2 separate regions of the Homo sapiens genome follow, and region 1 is linked to region 2. The links come from fine-mapping of genetic effects on gene expression. A gene starts in region 2. The other region holds a variant in brackets. All regions are shown on one strand. Distances are between the middles of the regions. Region 1 overlaps SLC22A24 (solute carrier family 22 member 24). Region 2 holds the start of INCENP (inner centromere protein).

Region 1 (4,524 bases), 960 kb before region 2:
CATTAGAATCTTTTTACAATTATTTGGGGGTTGAAAAGTTTCTTCAGGCAAGATTTCCTGATTCTCACTGTTCTCTCTAGAAATGCAGATCCTGCGTGTGGTTTTAGCAACTTTGGGAATTGGTAGTGTTTCTGCTGCTAGCAACAGTGCTTCTGTCCACCACAACGAGCTCGTCCCCACCATATTGAGGTACAAGAGCTAAAGACCATCTGGTTTCAAAACACAAATTTCTGAATTTATTGATATTCATTGTGAATGAAAGACTGACACTGTTTAGGTGCCAGATGAATTAACTGTAATAGAAATGAACAGAGTAACTGAGAGCCATATATGTGCTATTATTATCAAATTATCAAAGCTGCGGGTTATTGCTACAGGTTAATTAATGCTATGGGTATCTCTATTTTAGTAATTATGAAACTAAGGTTAAGAGCAGTTACCAACATTATACTATCAAATAGGTAGAAACCAACAGAGGTAAATGTCACAATTAAGGGCTTGCTGTCAAAGCCCATGTGTTTAGTAACTCTGTTGTACTGGTCCCCATAAAGAAATAATGATGATAAAGAGCTGACATGTACAGATTCATACAAGATTTTTTGTATTGTTATTTGCACTCTAAGGTCAACAGTTGCAGGAATCAATGCAGTGTCCGGTAGGACTGGGGCAGCACTGGCTCCTCTGTTGATGACCTTAATGGCGTATTCTCCCCACCTACCCTGGATTTCCTATGGAGTCTTCCCCATCCTTGCTGTCCCTGTTATCCTCCTCCTTCCAGAAACCAGGGATCTACCTCTTCCTAACACCATCCAGGATGTGGAAAATGAGTGAGTAAACCCTCTAGCTGTCACTTGAGTGGGGAGTGGCTATGTGCTGTAGCTGTTTAATGAGAAAGGTCAACGACCATTTGGGGCCCTCTGTCCTTCATGTAGGCTCAGACCTAGGACTTTTCTATTTGTCACCATGTCCTTTAGTTCAGTAGCAGCCTACCCTATCCACAATGGAGTCAGACTCTTGAGGCCCTCTATGTCACACAGACCATTTCACACCAGAAGGTTCAGTGGTGAAAAGATCCAAATTAGCCTATTATGAGTGGCACATACTTTCTGCCCTTGTGGGAAACACACACTCCTGTTGTTTTCTCACAAATCTGCTAAGACTCAAATGCCTCATTCTCATCCCCTGGTTTTATCACACATTGGCTCAATGAGTGCCTGTTATGTGGTGGGAAAGGGAATGAGATTGCCTCATACCTAATTATTGCTTCAGTCAAAGAATCATGGGACTACAGCATAGAGCAAAATCTCCTTTGCAAAAATAACGATGTATCTGAAGGAAATGGATCTTGTTGGGATGCCTCTGAGATTTAGGCAAATTTGTTGCCATGGGCAACAGAAATTTTGAGGAGACAAAATTAAGAAAAGAAAGCAGGATTTTAAATGATGAAAAATAAGACAATAGCTTTAAAATTTTCAATTCTCGCTTTGATTTACTAAAGATGTCATTGGTCTGAGATCCAAAGAGACAATGGTGAGAGTATCAATATTCAACACTGCCTTCCCAGGAATGCCCAGGTATCAGGGCCTTTTCCAACACAATAGTATCAATATCTAGAGAATCTTGGATTACAATGCTGGTGGGTAGAGGGCAGCTTGTCCTCAGGCACACAGTATATATATGCTTAATCTATATCTTATTTATTTTTTGTTTCTTAATCTTGTTTTTGTTTGCATTTCTATTTCTCAGCAGAAAAGATTCAAGAAACATAAAGCAGGAAGATACTTGCATGAAAGTAACACAGTTTTAAGAGATTCCCAAGACCTGATCCAAAGAAGAGCAAAATGGGCAGGGGGAATCAAGATTATGCCTTTATATCTGCAAAACTAGCCAAAAATATAATGTGCAGACAGATGCCATTTATAATTATGGTACTACATGTATCAGTAATTCCAAAATACCTTATAAGTTTAAGTGATTCCATGAAATAATGATTTGCTTTTGGGAAGAAGTTGCACAACTAGTTTCAAATTCATCTGAAAATCACTAACAGCCAAGATGATTCAGGAAAAAGAGCATCATGGAGTGACGATCAGGCTGACTCATATACGGTAAAGCACATGCTGGACTTTTTATAAAACTACAATCAACAAAACAGTAATAGCAAATGCATTATAATTTGTTTGCATTAACACACC[G/A]TAATGACTCCAGAAACATGCCCAAGTATACAGAAAGAGTCTTCAAAAAATTCATGAAAATGCATATTATGAGTAAACTATGCATAGAGTTCAAATTTTTGTGCCAAAATAAATCTGTACTAATTTTTTATAACATGGCTGAACAGGATCTATTTTGAAGCACTAAGAAGGATAAGATGTTTGTGTGAAAAAAGCTGTTATCCAAGGAACACAAATTCTGCTGAAATAGAAGCAAGAACAAACATCAAATTTATGGTGAAACTTAGGTGGAAGAATGGTGAAATCATTGAGACTTTACAAAAAGTTTATGGGGACAATGCTCCAGAGAAATTAGTAGTTTACAAATGGATAATGCATTTTTAAAAGAGATGAGACAATGTTGAAGATGAATTCCTTAGCAGCAGAACATCCACATCAATTTGCAAGGAAAAAATAATTTAGAGAAGGCAGCCAAGATGGCCAAATAGCAACAGCTTGAGTCTACAGCTCCCAGCATGAGTGATGCAGAAGACGGGTGATTTCTGCATTTCCATCTGAGGTACCAGGTTCATCTCACTAGGGAGTGCCAGACAGTGGGCACAGGACAGTGGGTGCAGTGCATCGTGCGTGAGCCAAAGCAGGGTGAGGCACTGCCTCACTCGGGAAGTGTGAGGGGTCAGGGAGTTCCCTTTCCTAGTCAAAGAAAGGGGTGACAGACGGCACCTGGAAATTCGGGTCACTCCCACCCGAATACTGCGCTTTTCCAATGGGCTTAAAAAAACGGTGCACCAGGAGATTATATCCCGCACCTGGCTCAGAGGGTCCTACCCACATGGAGTCTCACTGATTGCCAGCACAGCAGTCTGAGATCAAACTGCAAGGCAGCAGTGAGGCTGGGGGAGGGGCGCCCGCCATTGCCCAGGCTTGCTTAGGTAAACAAAGCAGCCAGGAAGCTCGAACTGGGTGGAGCCCACCACAGCTCAAGGAGGCCTGCCTGCCTCTGTAGGCTCCACCTCTGGGGACAGGGCACAGACAAACAAAAAGACAGCAGTAACCTCTGCAGACTTAAATTTCCCTGTCTGACAGCTTTGAAGAGAGCAGTGGTTCTCCCAGCACACAGCTGGAGATCTGAGAATGGGCAGACTGCCTCCTCAAGTGGGTCCCTGACCCCTGACCCCCGAGCAGCCTAACTGGGAGGCACCCCCCAGTAGGGGCAGACTGACACCTCACACAGCCAGGTAGTCCTCTGAGACAAAACTTCCAGAGGAACAATCAGACAGCAGCATTCGCGGTTCACTAAAATCCGCAGTTCTGCAGCCACCGCTGCTGATACCCAGGCAAACAGGGTCTGGAGTGGACCTCCGCAAACTCCAACAGACATGCAGCTGAGGGTCCTGTCTGTTAGAAGGAAAACTAACAAACAGAAAGGACATCCACACCAAAAACCAATCTGTACATCACCATCATCAAAGACCAAAAGTAGATAAAACCACAAAGATGGGGAAAAAACAGAGCAGAAAAACTGGAAACTCTAAAACGCAGAGTGCCTCTCCTCCTCCAAAGGAGCACAGCTCCTCACCGGCAATAGAACAAAGCTGGATGGTGAATGACTTTGATGAGTTGAGAGAAGAAGGCTTCAGATGATCAAACTACTCCAAGCTACAGGAGGAAATTCAAACCAAAGGCAAACAAGTTAAAAACTTTGAAAAAAATTTAGATGAATGTATAATTAGAATAACCAATATAGAGAAGTGCTTAAAGGAGCTGACGGAGCTGAAAGCCAAGGCTTGAGAACTACGTGAAGAATGCAGAAGCCTCAGGAGCTGATGCAATCAACTGGAAGAAAGGGTATCAGTGATGGAAGATGAAATGAATGAAATGAAGTGAGAAGGGAAGTTTAGAGAAAAAAAGAATAAAAAGAAATGAACAAAGCCTCCAAGAAATATGGGACTATGTGAAAAGACCAAATCTACGTCTGATTGGTGTACTTGAAAGTGATGGGGAGAATGGAACCAAGTTGGAAAACACTCTGCAGGATATTATCCAGGAGAACTTCCCCAATCTAGCAAGGCAGGCCAACATTCAGATTCAGGAAATACAGAGAATGCCACAAAAACACTCCTCGAGAAGAGCAACTCCAAAACACATAATTGTCAGATTCACCAAAGTTGAAATGAAGGAAAAAATGATAAGGGCAGCCAGAGAGAAAGGTCGGGTTAGCCACAAAGGGAAGCCCATCAGACTAACAGCAGATCTCTCGGAAGAAACTCTACAAGCCAGAAGAGAGTGGGGGCCAATATTCAACATTCTTAAAGAAAAGAATTTTCAACCGAGAATTTCATATCTAGCC
Region 2 (4,000 bases):
GCTCTCTGAGGGCAAACCCCTGTCTGTCTTGCTCATCGTTGAATGCCCAGAGCACAGCAGTGCCTGGCAACAAGGACTATTTGTTAAATGAATTAATCCACCCATCAACTCTACACCTAGAAATAAACATCCTATAGGTGCTCATCCCACCACACAAAGGGCACCAAATAAACTTAATCTGCACAGGTTAGAACTGACCAACACATGTTCAAAACCCCTGTTCCCAGATGCCAAGGGCAGCAATAATCAGGGCAGGGCCAAATGGGCAGGATCGTACAGGCTTTGGGCTGAAACCTCGGCTCTGCAGCCAGCCAATCATGGGCAAGCCCTTTTCACTGTCATCCCTCACCTTCCCCTAACCCTTCTGCACCCAGACCACAGCCCTGGCAAAGCGCAGGACCTCAGGCCAGAAAAGAGAAAACTGTTTAAGGAAGCCAAAGGTTTGCAGAGAAAAGCAACAACTGGCTAACTTTTTAAAAAGTATTTGTTCAAATGGGCAACGTGGATGAGAGCTTCTTTCACAAAGTCCATGAAAGCAATTGGACTTCTTTCACGGGGAGGTTTGCTTCTAGCAGACCTTAGCGCAACGATTTAAAAAGGGTTACCGTAAGTTAAAACAGAGGTGACCCTGAAAAAGAAGGAATCAGTGTACCAAGAATCAGGCTCCTGGAAGAGCAGCAAAAATCTCTTCTTCAACCCATGTAAGCACCTGCACACAGATAAAGAGCACTCAACACCTCACCGAGGAAGACACTCTCCAGTCTTCCTCCTCTCCAACACTTCTTCCACACCATACACCAGACTGAAGGCCCCATCGTCCTCCTCTATGACTCCTGTCCTTTTCAGGGTGCTGTAAGTTGGGCGCCTACCACACCTCTGTGCAGAAAGCGCATAGCAGCTGCTCCCATTTACTGAGTCATACTCCATGCCCGAGTCAGACATCATCTCATTTAATTCTCACCACAACCTTGAGGATACGCATGGGCAGATGAGGAAATTGAGGCAAAGAGAAGTCAAAATCAGCCGGTAAATCAGGGGCATAAATAGAACCGTGCCCTTAACCACGGGCTATACCGCCTTTAAACCGTGCCCTTAACCACTGGCTATACCGCCTTCTAGATATCAACTTCTGAAAGGCAGGTGCCCAGTCTTGGCTCTGGGCAACCCCGCGAGCAACCCATGTTAGCTGAATGAGACTGAACCGCTGACAGCGAACAGGCTTGGGGAGTGACAAGGGGCGGCCCAGCCTCCGGAAATGGTCAGTTTAAAATGCTGCTCAGCTGGGGGCGGGGGCGTTGAGAGAGGGGTTTAACTGCACAGAAATGCCATCTGGCATCATTCCGCCAAACAACCGGGTTGGTTTCGGGCTTCCTGCGCGTCCAAGTCAACACTAATCCTCACAGGCACAAGGTGCCAAGCAGCCGGGAGCGGAGGGAACGGGGCTATGCTCTAGGAAGCTGAGGGCCTAGGTGGAAAGGGTGGGAGGCATCTCGGGCCCGAGAACCAAGGCAGGCGACCTCGCCACTTGGAAGAGGTGACCCTCATATGCCCAGGTAGCCAGGGGCTGGGGTGGGGAGTCACGACCCTGGTCCGGAGTCGACAGGGACGGAGCAGAGGACCGGGGAAAAAATCGCGAACCACCCCCCAATCCCCACGCCCACGCGCACTCACTCGACTGCGCCACGTCCCCTGAAGGCTGCTCCGATCCAAGTCCGGTGGTATCCCTAGGTAAGGCCCCGCTTGCCCAGACCCACTTGGCTCCGGGCCTTCGGGACTCACCGCACGGGAGGAGCAACCAGGCGGCGCAGCGCGGGCGAAAACTATGATTTTCAAAACTGAAGGCTCAGCCAATCCTCGGCAAGTTTGTCCGGGCGGTTGCAAAATTTTAAGCCAATCAAATAACAGGAAGTACCAGTCAGCCCTCCTATTGGCCATATCCACTAGCAATCTGCGGGACTAAGAGGCGGGGAAAGGAAGCGAAAGACTTTAAGCCCCCTCAGCTTCCGGGTGCTGCGGCCGCGGCCGAGAGAGGAAGTAGATCCCCGCCTGGGAGGAGCCCGCAGACCTGGAACTACGAGTCCCGGCGAGCACTGCGAAGGCCACGCGCGGCTTTCTTTCTTCTCCAAGCACGGTGGCAGTCTTCTGATCTCTGCTGCTTTTTTTTCCTCATAAAAACATGTATGTATATACTTACATTGCTGAAAGACCAGCTTTTTAATGTAACAAATTATCTAGGTACAGAAGTCATAGGTTCCTCTTCCCATGAGAAAAACATTCCTCAAAATACAAACCAAACAGCATCCCAGAGGGAGTAAAATTTCATTGTACTGAAACATATACAAATTAAGGCTACCTTGGTATATAAACAATTTAGAAATTATGATGGAATAGTTCCACCAAATCATTTACGTATAGGAATTCATGCCATTTTTTAAAGAATTGGTAGTGGGGCTCAATTCAAACAATATTATGCATCCTTACATTCAACTTAATACACTTAGCAGCTATAAGGAGTGTAACTGTAACCCCACTTCCTGAAATCTCAGGAGTAATGTTAAAAATCCAAACCCATCAAAGGCCAGGGTGTTACGGTATTTGGCTCATGAATCGAAAAGCCTAATCATTTCAATTTAATCTTTACAAGTAGAACAAGATCCAAACATGGGACGTTTTCTTATTTTTCTTTGCTTTTGTGGTTGTAATGCCCTTTTGGTTTTCTGAGCAAGCTGAATACATCTGATAAATACTACCATTGGACAAAGGATCTAAACATTGAGATGTTTTACTAAATCAAGGTTTCAAGTTGGCACAATGTTTTTACTAAGTCATATTTCAATTAGTTCATCTTTCCAATATGGAGGCGGGGGGGGAAAGACAAGGACTAATATGTCCTATAAAGAATCTCTGGCCGGCGAGATCCCGCCACTGCACTCCAGCCTGGGCGACAGAGCGAGACTCCGTCTCAAAAAAAAAAAAAAAAAAAAAAAAGAATCTCTGGCCGGGCGCGGTGGCTCACGCCTGCAATCCTAGCACTTTGGGAGGCCGAGGCGGGTGGATTGCCTGAGCTCAGGAGTTCGAGACCAGCCTGGGCAACACAGTGGAACCCTGTCTCTACTAAAATACAAAAAAAAATTAGCCGGGCGTGGTGGCTTGCACCTGTAATCCCAGCGACTCGGGAGGCTGAGACAGGAGAATCGCTTGAACCCGGGAGGCAGAGGTTGCAGTGGGCCGAGATCGCGCCATTGCACTCCAGCCTGGGCCACAAAAAGCAAAAAACTCCGTCTCAAAAAAAAAATCTCTGCCGCTTTTGAGAAGTAAAAACAAAACGCCTTGTGAATGGCAACGGAGTGTGCGTTTATCTAGAGCCTTCTGTCATCTCTTGGGCGACAGAATCCTTGGTCACCTACCCTGGTACTGGACGTTTCTTGAGAGAAGTGGTTCTCATGCAGAGGAGGTTTTATCCCACCTCCGCCCCCCACATTTGGCAGTGTGTGAATTCATTTGGGTTTGGGAGAAGGGGTTAGTGGTATTTGGTGGGTAAAGGCCAGGGATGCTGCTGAACGCCATCTAGTGCATAAGACAGTCCCCACAGCAAGGAATTACCCGGCCCCAGATACCAGAATTGCTGCTGTTGAGAAACTGCTTTAGACAAAGTCACTTTACTCTGTGAGTCAAGGTTGCTGTTACCTGTAAAATAAGGCAGTTCAATCTTGAAGAGATTTGTACATCCACGGTCAGCTACCAACAGATAGTTTACCCTGTTCCCAGGTCGTCTGTAGTATTTTTCCTCTCCCTTTCTTCCCTCTCTTTATCAATTCTGTTTTTGCCTTTGTTATTTTACTCAGTTTACCAACTGACTCCATCATATGTGAGTAAATAATTTGTGAGCAAATTAACTAAACATTTCTGAGTTATTCTTTGAAGAATGTAAATAATTGGAAATCAGCTGAATCATAAAAGGATATGTTACCCAATCGTTAATCATTCTGTTTATTAATTC

The links. PIP is the estimated chance that this variant, and not a neighbour inherited with it, causes the effect. A credible set is the group of variants that fine-mapping cannot tell apart.
Region 1: its variant is the best candidate, but not a certain one, in a credible set for the expression of INCENP in left ventricle (GTEx, PIP 0.58).

What each region holds. Positions count from the first base shown.
Region 1 is chr11:63,077,223-63,081,746 of GRCh38, reverse strand. SLC22A24 (solute carrier family 22 member 24) reads left to right here. Exons shown (of 10, transcript NM_001136506.2): 8 at 81-189; 9 at 624-827; 10 at 1,747-1,807. The coding sequence ends at 1,807. Among named protein-coding and RNA genes, the nearest start is that of SLC22A8, 64 kb to the right of the region's middle. The variant G/A (reference allele first, on the strand shown) is at 2,196.
Region 2 is chr11:62,121,835-62,125,834 of GRCh38, reverse strand. INCENP (inner centromere protein) reads right to left here and starts at 1,824. Exons shown (of 19, transcript NM_001040694.2): 1 at 1,672-1,824. It overlaps LOC124902681 (a long non-coding RNA gene), which reads left to right and starts at 2,124. Exons shown (of 2, transcript XR_007062697.1): 1 at 2,124-2,178. RefSeq lists enhancers at 953-1,534, 1,524-1,593, 2,124-2,213.